3 linked regions of the Homo sapiens genome follow. The protein of the gene in region 2 purifies or fractionates together with the protein of the main gene of each other region. This does not show direct contact. Each region holds a gene or a part of one and is shown on either strand. Other genes may lie near its edges. The genes, in order: SNRNP70, GEMIN2 and STRN4.

Region 1 (3,747 bases), on a different chromosome or scaffold from region 2:
GTGTGAGCCACCGTGCCCAGCCATCATTATTATTTTTTGAGATAGAGTCTTGCTCTGTCCAGGCTGGAGTGCAGTTGCACAGTCTCAGCTCACTGCAACCTCCACCTCCCAGATTCAAGCGATTCTCCTGCCTTAGCCTTCAAAGTAGCTGGGATTACAGGTGCATGCCACCATGTCCAGCTAATTTTTGTATTTTTAGTAGAGAAGGGGTTTCGCCATGTTGCCCAGGCTGGTCTTGAACTCCTGATCTCAGGGATCCTCCTACCTTGGCCTCCCAAAGTGCTGGGATTACAGGTGTGAGCCACCACACCCGGCCTATTTTATTTGTTTTTTTGAGACAGATTCTCACTCTGTTGCCCAGGCTGGAGTGCAGTCGTGCAATCTCTGCCTCCCGGGTTCAAGCAATTCTCCTGCCTCAGCTTCCCAGGTAGCTGGAATTACAGGTGCGTGCCACCACTCCCAGCTAATTTTTGTATTTTTAGTAGAGATGGGATTTCACCATGTTGGCCAGGCTGGTCTCGAACTCCTGACCTCAGGTGATCCGCCCACCTCGGCCTCCCAAAGTGCTGGGATTACAGGTGTGAGCCACCACACCCAGCCCTTTTCTTTCTTTTTTTTTTTTTTTTTTTGAGACGGAGTCTCGCTCTGTCGCCCAGGCTGGAGTCTAGTGGCACAATCTTGGCTCACTGCAGCCTCAACTTTCTCGGCTCAAACGATCCTCCCACTTCTTTTTTTTATTTGAGACGGAGTTTTGCTCTTGTCTCCCAGGCTGGAGTGCAATGGTGCCATCTTGGCTCACCACAACCTCTGCCTCCCAGGTTCAAGTGATTCTCCTGCCTCAGCCTCTCAAGTAGCTGGGATTATAGGCATGTGCCACCATGCCCAGCTAATTTTGTATTTTTAGTAGAGACGGGGTTTCTCCATGTTGATCAGTCTGGTCTCGAACTATTGACCTCAGGTGATCTGCCCGCCTTGGCCTCCCAAAGTGCTGGGATTACAGGCGTGAGCACTGCACTCGGCCTTTTTCTTGAAACATAAAATTAGTCATTTTAATTTGCAATAATTTCTGTAGTTATTAAACAGGCTATTGAATCCATCCACAAAACTTAAGATACAATACTTAAGAACAGGGCTCTAAATAACAAGTGCCAGCTCTCTGATCTCATGGCCAACAACCTGAGATTCCTGCCATCTGGTCTCAGTTCAGGACCTTTGCACTTACTGTTAAACACCGCCCCCCCGGCCCCACCCCAGATCTCGCTTCTATCTGTCCTTTATTCAAATGTTACCTCTTCAGAGGGGCCTTCCATTATCACCCTTTCTAAAACAGCCTCGCTCTCACTTCCCATCCCTTTATTCTGCTCCATCGTTCTTCATTATGCTGGCCACTATCTCAAATTATCTTTTATTATTTATTTATTTATTTACTTTTGAGACGGAGTCGCTCTGTCGCCCAGGCTGGAGTGCAATGGCACGACCTCGGCTCACTGCAACCTCCGCCTCCCGAGTTCAAGCGATTCTCCCGCCTCAGCCTCCAGAGTAACCGGGCTTACAGGCGCGCACGGCCACGCCCGGCTAATTTTTGTATTTTTAGTAGAGACGGGCTTTCACCATGTTGGTCAGGTTGGTCTCACACTCCTGACCTCAGGTGATCTGCCCGCCTCAGCCTCCCAAAAGTTCTGGGATTACAGGCGTGATCCACCGCGCCTGGCCTCAAATTATCTTTATTCAGTTAAATGCTTTTATTGTCTCTCCCAGTACAATGTAAGCCCTAGCAGCAGAAGACTTTGCTTTAATCACGTGCTGTACCCCCAAAGCCCAGACAGTGCCTAGCACACACGAGATGCTCGATGAATAGTTATTGATTGAATAGATTAGACATCAACGCAATCAGGCTGTTCACCTAGGGACTCTTTGCTAGGCGGCGGAGAGGTACGTTACAGTTCTCTACGCAAAACGCATGCGCGAAAGATCCGGGAAGTGTGATCGGAAAGGGGCGGAGCATCAGGGAGAGTCTCGCGGACATAGGCGGTTCGGCGCGGAAAGCGGGAGGTGGAGGGGCGGCTTGGGGCAAGCGCGCGCGCGCAGTGCAGAAGCCAGCCCCCCGCGGCTGAGGTACTCAAGGTGCCCAAAGGCGGGGTAGTGACCTCGCGCGTGCGCTGTGCCCGCGGCAGCGCCGGGTCCTAGTGTGTGGGTTGTTGTTGGCACCGCACGGCGCGTGCGCAGTGAGGACGGCGGAGGGATTTGCGGCCGGGACCCACCCCCTGCTCCAGTCGCTATCGGAGGCCGCGCGGGTGGCTGAGCAGCGGCCTGGTGCGCTCGCTTAGCGGGCGACGGAATCAGACGGACGTGGACGCCCCCGGAGTGGAAGCCGAAGCAGGAGTTGTTGTTGCTGAGGGGCTGCCGCAGCCGCCGCGAGCCTCCGGACAGACGCCAGAGCGAGGAGGGCGCTACGCGGTGAGTGAGTGTGACTGAGTGGCCCGACGGGGTGCGGGGCCGCTACCCAGAAGCCCCAGCGGTGGGCCCGGTCCTCTTCCCCGCGGCCAGGCCCCTTTCCCGCGTCCCCGCCACAGGTCCCTTCTGCATCCCTTTCCCGGACCCCGAAATCTCTGGGCACCCACGCCCGCTTCCCACAGCGCCCTCGTGGTTCCCTACCCACAGGCCCTTGCGGTGTGTGGCCTTTTTTCTTTTTCGTTTGTCTATGTTGTCCTGGACCCTTACCCATAATTCCTTTCGCTTTTTGCGGGGTCCAGGTCTGTTACCCACAAGCACTTGGTTTTGGGGCTTCGCTCCTTATGTTTCTCTTTCTTTGCTTGGAAACTTCCGATCCCCAGGACCCTGCAAACTGCATCTCGTAATTTGCCCTCCACGGCACGGGACGAGCAGCCACAGCTGCTCTGGGCCTCCCTCCTCGGGTCCTTGATTTCCCCAGAAATTCCCAGGGAACCTCTCCGCCCCACAGCTCGTGTCAGAGGACTCTGAGACTTCACTCTTCAGGAACCCTTTTCCAGCCGTTATTTTTGTTTTCTTTACCGGCCTTTCACCTCCACCCCCACCAAGACGTACCCTTTTCTCCGCAACACAGGACTGTTCTCTGCCCTTACAGAGCCTGTTTTAATTCCGAGACTTTTCTCCTGTCTTTCTTATTTTGAGAGTCAAGGAGTAACAGGGGCTTTCTCTGTGCAGACCCGATCTAACCTAAGGCTGTCCTGCTTCTGCTCTCAGACTTGGCAAGATGACCCAGTTCCTGCCGCCCAACCTTCTGGCCCTCTTTGCCCCCCGTGACCCTATTCCATACCTGCCACCCCTGGAGAAACTGCCACATGAAAAACACCACAATCAACCTTATTGTGGCATTGCGCCGTACATTCGAGAGTTTGAGGTGAGTTCACTGAGCAGGCCAGGAATGGTTTGGGTTCTGGGGAGCAACGGGTTGGATTTGCGAGTCCAGCTTCTGGCCATTTTGCCAGCTGCGTGATTTAAGCGAGGGGCTTAACCTTTGTGATCCTCAGTTTCTCTGTTTTAAATGGGGTTGGAGCCGGGTGTCGGGTGTGGTCGAGTGCGTCTGTAGTCTCAGCTACTCAGGAGGCTGAGGTGGGAGGATTGCTTGAGCCCAGGAGTCGGAGGCTGGAGTGCTTTGTGATTGTGCCACTATACTCCGGCCTGGGTGACAGAGCAGGACTTCGTCTCTCAAAAAAAAAATTTTTTTTTTAAGTGGGGTTGTGGCCCGGTACGGTGGCTCACGCC
Region 2 (3,747 bases):
AGTAAATCGTGATATATAGGGTTAAATAAAACCCATCTGATGAGAATTTATGATTTGTAGGGCATGACTCCCCAGACCCCTTAGATAGGAATTTGGGCAAAATAAAAAAATCAGGCCGGGCGCGGTGGCTCATGCCTGTAATCCCAGCACTTTGGGAGGCCGAGGCGGGTGGATCACGAGGTCAGGAGATCGACATCATCCTGGCTAACAAGGTGAAACCCCGTCTCTACTAAAAATACAATAAATTAGCCGGGCGTGGTGGCGAGTGCCTGTAGTCCCGGCGGCTACTCGGGAGCCTGAGGCAGGAGAATGGCGTGAACCCGGGAGGCGGAGCTTGCAGTGAGCCGAGATTGCGCCACTGCACTCCAGACTGGGCGACAGAGCGAGACTCCGTCTCAAAAAAAAAAAAAAAAAAATTCAGTTTAGTCCTCACGTCACTACTTACTTTTTCAAATTTGTCCTTGATTATCACCAAAATGTTGGACGACAGGAGTATTTCTCCCTATTCTAAGTCTGTTTTTCCCAAAACCAGTGAAAATTTGTTAACCAAATAACTGTAGTTTGCAGCCAGGTGATATCTTTCCAAGTGTCCCAATTGTTTAGTTACAGTTCCTAAGCATTAAGTACTTAAATAAGCTAAGGACTATCCTCACTTTATCTTCAATTTAGACTTACATCCTGGTTTGAAATCAATTCCTTGCAAACTAAAGGCAGTGCCATAAATAAAAATTTTTAACCTTCTAAAATAAACATCAGTGTTAGAAAATAAGTCAATTGTATTCACTCAATTGTATTTGTTTAGAAATAATCAGATATTATACTTGTTTCTTGCACATTCTTGCCTTGTTTCCTCACCTATGAAATGGAGATAATAATACTATCTACCTAACAAGATTGACCTAACATTTTTGTTAATTTCTGGGTGTTAGCATTAGTTTCATTTTTTTCACTATTTGTATTTAAACGAAGAGATTTTTCTTTAAAACAAAAATTAAAAAGTGCTGGCTATTCTAGGAGTAATATTCATTCCAAATAAACATACAGTGATCTTTGAAGTGGTCAAGCACTAGAAATTTCTGTAGAAAATTAATTTTTCATTCATTTGGCATCGCATAAATCTAGGTTGGAATTGGTTCTTCCTCTTTGGAAGGTCAGTCCCTGCCCTAAGAGAGCGGTATATTACCACCCACTTCACAAGACTGTTCTAAGAATCAAATGAGAAAATGTGTTTATGAAGAGTTTAAGAATTTAGAGCTCCATGAATGATAATTACAGTAATATTGTTCATTAATTCAAAAAACATTTTTAAGGATCCCTCACTACTAGGGATGCATAAAAGTTGCTAACCCTCGGCCTTTACCCAGCGTTAGAAGACAAAACAGAGGGTAAAAGTCCCAGAAACGCGTTCGAACCAATTCAGCTAGGAATTAAATTCTCAGATCCTTTATTACACCACCGGAGCCTTAACCTTGAGGCAAGCAGCAATTTGTTCATGCGCAGTTAACGCTCCCTAAACTGCCACTTGCTCAGCTCCGCGCCTAAGGTGTCTATTAGTACGCCTGCGCTGTGACCTAGAATGGGCGCATGCGCCGAGCGGAACTGGCTGGTTTGAAAACCATGGCGTGGGTACCAGCGGAGTCCGCAGTGGAAGAGTTGATGCCTCGGCTATTGCCGGTAGAGCCTTGCGACTTGACGGAAGGTTTCGATCCCTCGGTACCCCCGAGGACGCCTCAGGAATACCTGAGGCGGGTCCAGTGAGTGATTCGGCCCTGGGCGGGTGGGCTGGTCTTCTGCCCTGCCCCTGGGTACAGCCCTCGGTGCTCTATTCCCGTTCCAGTCTGTTGCGAGTTCAGGTCTATTCAGGATTCTGGATTACATCCTAACGTGGGCGAGTTTCTGTTGAACGTGATTGCACGTATCAAGATGTGTGCTCTTAGATTTGTTTTCAATCCAGATAATTTCAGAAATACATTGTTTAGTACCTCAATTGGAAGTCTGAATTTTTTTCTGATTTCACAATGAACTGTGGAAGTGGATCGCTTGTTTTACTACACCTGAGCAAAGCACAACAGAAATTTAATTTATCGCGTTTATTACTTATTTGTAGGATCGAAGCAGCTCAATGTCCAGATGTTGTGGTAGCTCAAATTGACCCAAAGAAGTTGAAAAGGAAGCAAAGTGTGAATATTTCTGTGAGTTTTATTAACCGTCTGGAGATTACCCCCAACCCCCCAATTAAAAGACTAACGCTCTTCCTATAGTATCTGACAGCATCAATTATGACGTAAGATTTGACTACTCCGTGCAAAGTTAGACATTCGCTTGTACTTTTTCCTTCAGAAAGACAATTGGCATTTACTGCCTCTAAAGAGGCTTTCTGTAACTCTAGCCTTTGTGGAGTGTTGCCCATCTTACTTCAGGACATTATCCAGTCCTTTCAAAGGAGTCTTTAAATGGGTTACTTATGTTATCTTTTATTTTTTGCTTGTTTGTTTGTTTATAGAGAGGGAGTCTCTGTTGCCAGCTGGTCTGGAACTCCTGGCCTCAAGTGATCCTCCCTCCTCTGCCACCCAAAGCGTTGGGATCACAGGCGTGAGCCACCTCACCTGGCCCCTTTATTTTTTAAGGAACTTTTTCCAGTTATTGGATTGGTGTTTAATCTTAGTGTGCTTTGCATGTTCTGAATTTGACCAAGTTTCACTTTTTTTAAGAATAGAAACCCAGATGTCTTACACTTTTTTTTTTTTTTTTTTTGAGACAGTTTCACTCTTGTTGCCCAGGCTGCAGTGCAGTGGTGCGATCTCAGCTCACTGCAACCTCTGCCTTCCGGTTTCAAGCGATTACCGTGCCTCAGCCTCCCGAGTAGCTGGGATTACAGGCGCCCACCACCACACCCGGCTAATTTTTGTATTTTTAGTAGAGACGGGGTTTCACCATGTTGTCCAGTCTGGTCTTGAACTCCTGACCTCGTGATGCGCCCACCTCTGCCTCCCAAACTGCTGGGATTACAGGTGTGAGCCACCATACCCGGCCTTACACTTTTATAGCTACTTGCACACTCTGGACATTTTCATTTATTTATTTATCCAGCACATCTTTAATTAAGCAACTAGGTTGTGCCGGGCATTGGGAATTCAACAGAGGGTAAGACAAAAAAGGTTCCTACCCTTGTAGAGTTTACATACCCTCCTGAGGAAGACAGAGAGTAAACAAGCAAACAAATAATTACATATTGTGATTATTGCTATGAAGAAAATAAGCATGTATAATAATCAATAAATGACAGAACTACTGTAGAGGAATCATAGAAGGGCTCTCTTTTTCCCCCTTTTTTTTTTGCGTCTCAATTTTTCGCCCAGGCTGGAGTGCAGTGGCACAATCTCAGCTCATCACAACCTCTGCCTCTCAGGTTCAAGAGCTTCTCTTGCCTCAGCCCCCTGAGTAGCTAGGATTACAGGCGTGTGCCACCACACCTGACTAATTTTTGTATTTTTAGTAGAGACGTGGTTTTACCATGTTGGCCAGGCTGGTCTCAAACTCCTGACCTGAAGTGATCTGCCTGCCTCTGCCTCCTAAAGTGCTGGGATTACAGATGTGAGCCACCACGCCTGGCCAGCAAAGGTCTCTCTAAGGAGGTGCTATTTAACCTAAGCTCAAAGGAGGGTGGCATTTTATTTTATTTCTTTTTCTTTTTTTTTTTTTTTTGAGATGGAGTCTCAGAGTCTCGCTCTGTCGCCCAGGCTGGAG
Region 3 (3,747 bases), on a different chromosome or scaffold from region 2:
GCACCGCACAGCACCCACCACACCATCTTCTCATCCTGGAGGCTGATGAGAGAAAAGATGTTTATCCCCTCACTTACTGACCCTTCTTGGAGTTTGAGAGGAACTTGTGTCTGGCATGGTACCAGCACTGTCACTTTGTACTTTTGTTTTCTTTTATTCTGTTAAGTTAGTAAAAATTCAGACATCTCAGAGGGGTGTGTGTGTGTGTGTGAGTGTGTGTATACACATATATATGTAAGTGAAAAAGGAAAGTTCCTTCTCTTCGTCCCTTTCCTGCTCTTCTCTCCTGAGAGAGAAGAGTTATTGTGCTTATGTAATAGATGAACTACTGCTGTATGTATCATTTTGTGACATAATAATCTGTTTTGGTTTTCCTTTCATATCAGCACAGAGAACTCTTTCTTTTTGATAGCTGCATAGCGTCCCACGGGATGTTTGCACCATAGCTGATTGAGTTTGACCCTGGTTGGTGGACTTTTAGATTTTTTCTAGTTTTTCCCCCATCAGACATGGCTGCAGTGAGAACCCCTTATTCCTGTGCAAGAATGAAGCAGAACAGATGAGTGGAATAGTAGAATGGATGTGTTTATGAAACAGTGATTGGGCTGGGCGCGGTGGCTCGCGCCTGTAATCCCAGCACTTTGAGAGGCCAAGGCAGGTGGATCACAAGGTCTGGAGTTCAAGACCAGCGTGGCCGATATGGTGAAACCCCACCTCTACTAAAAATACAGAAATTAGTCGGGCGTGGTGGTGGGCGCCTGTAGTCCCAGCTACTCGGGAGGCTGAGGCAGGAGAATCGCTTGTACCCGGGAAGCAGAAGTTGCAGTGAGCCGAGATCACACCACTGCACTCCAGCCTTGGTGACAGAGCGAGATGCCATCTCAAAAAAAATAAAAATAAAAAAAGAAACAGTGAATGACTCTGCCACATTGACCCACCAGTTTACTCTCCCATCAGCGGCACCTCTTTTACACACCTTTACTTGAACACTTAGTGCTAACAGACGGTGTGACTTCCCCTGTGAGATCCCTTAAGAGCTAGGCAGTGTCAGATTTTCCTGATGGACTCTGAATAACTTTTCTCTGAAGAGCTTAATACAGCTGCTCCTAGCAGAAGACCTGCCGTGCGACCCTGCTTGGTACCTGTGTGTTGAATGGCAGAGAAGGCAGCCCCCAGGGAGGTCCTGCCAGTAGTCACCATAAGTTTGGAGCAGGAAGGTGGCGGAGCTGCAGTCTGATAATGAGCAGGCATTTGCTAGGTGGGGGATTCTGAGAAGTAAGTAACGTGGTTTCTGCCCATCCGAAACTTCCAGGCTGGCAGAGGAAGCTTGTTTGTGCAGGGGACCGCAGAGCTGTAGATGTTCATGCACAGTTGATTGTGTGGCTCTGCCCCTGTTCTGTGGCAACTCTGAGAGGGGAAGCTTTTTGAGGATGGGAGGGACCTTTTAATGAGGGATCTGAACTGGAGATTTGTATAGGAGCAGCGACAGGGACCTGCAGTGAGTGCGGTGCCAGCAGAGAATGTGCGGAGCTGCCCCTGCCCACTTCAGCTTCCTGGGGGCCCATTCCTGCCAGCAGCTGCTGAAGCTTGGGAAGGAGGCCCTTAGGAGATGCAGGGCTAGATGGCACGAAACGGGGACTCTTCCCAGCTAGCTGGGACAGGAAGCAGCGAATTCAGAGAGGCATCAGCTCCTGGGAGGACTGAATTGCTGGGACTCCTCCGAAGCCTTTAGATGTCGCCTTGCTGGGAATAGCTGGAGGGGCGGAGAGGCAGTAGCTGCCAGGTATCAGAAGGTTTTGGGAGCGCATGCTCTGCGGCTCTGGCTAGAGGGAGTGGCAGTGGGTGGATATGGTGAGCGGCACTTCCAGATCCCCGACCGACCCTCAGGCCTACCTTGGCCCTCGCAGACCAGACAGCCCGTGGGGGCTGCTGGCGTTTGCAGCGAGGGAGAGACTGGCCACTGACGCTTCCCGTTTTTGGTGGGTTTCCACCTCCCTGAGATGCTCCAACCATGTCTTTCTGGTTCTCTTTCCAGAGGCACTGGGAAAGGGACAGCAAAGCAGAGTGGGCAGCTGAGACCCTCACATCCTCATTAGGAGGAGGGAGACCACAGCTCGATGAGGCAGCAGAGGGATGAAGGGGGAACCCAGCCAGTGACAGGTCTGGTTGGGATGCCCAACTCCACCTCCTGCCCCCACAGATAGACCACTACTGTGTCCACTGCCCCGGCCTAGTCCAAGCCACTACCGTTCTGTCCTGGGATTTCTGGGACTGCCCTCATCTGTGATGGGGGTCTCTGTGTCCAGCTCTGCCGCTCTCCTGCTCCCTCCCTCTAGTCTCCCTCCAGAACTCCCTCCAGTCAGTTCTCCATGTTTTAGCTGGAGCTGCCTTTATAACATGCGAATCGGTTACCTCTCTGTACTTAAAACCCTTCCATGGCTTCACTGAGCCTTTTACAGGTTCTGAAGCAGCCATCCTGGCCTTTTTTAGAGTTCCTTAAGCCCACCATGCAGCTCTTGTCTCCGTCCTCTGCCAGCAGGGCCCTTCCCTCCCCTGGCTAACTTCTCTTCAGCTTCAGGCCTTAGCTGAATTGTCGCCTCTTGTCCCTCTTCCCATAGCGTCCTTCGCTCCCGCAATGGGGTCCTAGTCACATTGCATGTGAGTTGCTGCTCATGCCTGTCTCCTGCATGGGACTGAGCCCTGTGGGTGCAGGAACCACATGGCTCCTCTGTTATTCCCCAGCGCCTTACTGGGGCACCTGATGTGTGTGGGCAGTCACCAAACAGTGGCAGGTATTGACCAAGGTGTAGGTTCCCGGCAGGCTGAACTGCCCCTGGGAGGTTGAGGGATCAATCACCAAACCCCAGGAGGGAAGGGAGGAGAGTGAGGAGGAAAGTCAGGACTTGTCTTCGGTGGTCGGTCTGCCTCTCCTCACACCTTCTCCAGTGATTCAGAGAGTAGATTTGGGGGACTGAGAAGATACACAAAGGACAGAAACTCATGCTTCAGAGATGCTGATGTCATATAAGTAGTTTCCCTGTCTGGCCTTGGATGTTTATATACATATGTGTTGGTAAAAAGTGTTAAAAAGGAAAAAAATTTCCCATTCTTGAAGCGGACAGATGAGTTTTCTTTTCTATAAGGTAACTGGTGACATGTATTTCTTTTTTTTTTTGAGACGAAGTCTGGCTCTGTCGCCCAGGCTGGAGTGCAGTGGCACGATCTTGGCCCACTGCAATCTCCACTTCCCAGGTTCAAGCGATTCTCCTGCCTCAGCCTCCCGAGTAGCTGGGACTACAGGTGTGTACCACCATGCCTGGCTAAGTTTTTTGTATTTTTAGTAGAGATGGGGTTTCACCATGTTGGCCAGGCTGGTCTTGAACTCCTGACCTCAAGTCATCTGCCCACCTCAGCCTCCCAAAGGGCTGGGATTACAGGCGTGAGCCACTGTGCCTGGCCAATCCACAGACATTTCTAGTTGATCTGGGGTCTCCAAGGGATCCTACCTCCCGTAAGGAACTGGGCCCATTTCGAAGTTGCGAACAATGGACAGGGAGAATAAAAATGATGAAAGAAGTAGAAGCTGGCATTTGTTAGCCTTTATTCTGTGCCAGGCCTTGACTGAGCAGAACCTAGCACATGAGGGGAGGGCACTCTTGTGACTCTCATTTTCTAGAGGGGCAAATGGAGGCTCAGAGAAGGCTGATGACCTGCGTAAGATCATGTAGCGAGTAAGTGTCTAAGTTG

Evidence for each region.
Region 1: the proteins of GEMIN2 (region 2) and SNRNP70 purify together in Homo sapiens (affinity purification with mass spectrometry; 6 studies listed by BioGRID and IntAct, with this or other methods). This does not show direct contact.
Region 3: the proteins of GEMIN2 (region 2) and STRN4 purify together in Homo sapiens (affinity purification with mass spectrometry; 2 studies listed by BioGRID and IntAct, with this or other methods). This does not show direct contact.

The regions. Positions count from the first base shown.
Region 1 is NC_000019.10:49,083,180-49,086,926, forward strand, and holds the start of SNRNP70 (U1 small nuclear ribonucleoprotein 70 kDa), read left to right. Parts: upstream 1-2,271; 5' UTR 2,272-2,457; intron 2,458-3,225; 5' UTR 3,226-3,235; coding exon 3,236-3,382; intron 3,383-3,747. UniProt on the Homo sapiens protein: Component of the spliceosomal U1 snRNP, which is essential for recognition of the pre-mRNA 5' splice-site and the subsequent assembly of the spliceosome. SNRNP70 binds to the loop I region of U1-snRNA.
Region 2 is NC_000014.9:39,112,722-39,116,468, forward strand, and holds the start of GEMIN2 (gem-associated protein 2), read left to right. Parts: upstream 1-1,601; 5' UTR 1,602-1,617; coding exon 1,618-1,754; exon of another isoform or gene 1,755-2,107; coding exon 2,108-2,192; intron 2,193-2,967; exon of another isoform or gene 2,968-3,144; intron 3,145-3,747. UniProt on the Homo sapiens protein: The SMN complex catalyzes the assembly of small nuclear ribonucleoproteins (snRNPs), the building blocks of the spliceosome, and thereby plays an important role in the splicing of cellular pre-mRNAs.
Region 3 is NC_000019.10:46,739,717-46,743,463, reverse strand, and holds part of STRN4 (striatin-4), read left to right. Parts: intron 1-3,747. UniProt on the Homo sapiens protein: Calmodulin-binding scaffolding protein which is the center of the striatin-interacting phosphatase and kinase (STRIPAK) complexes.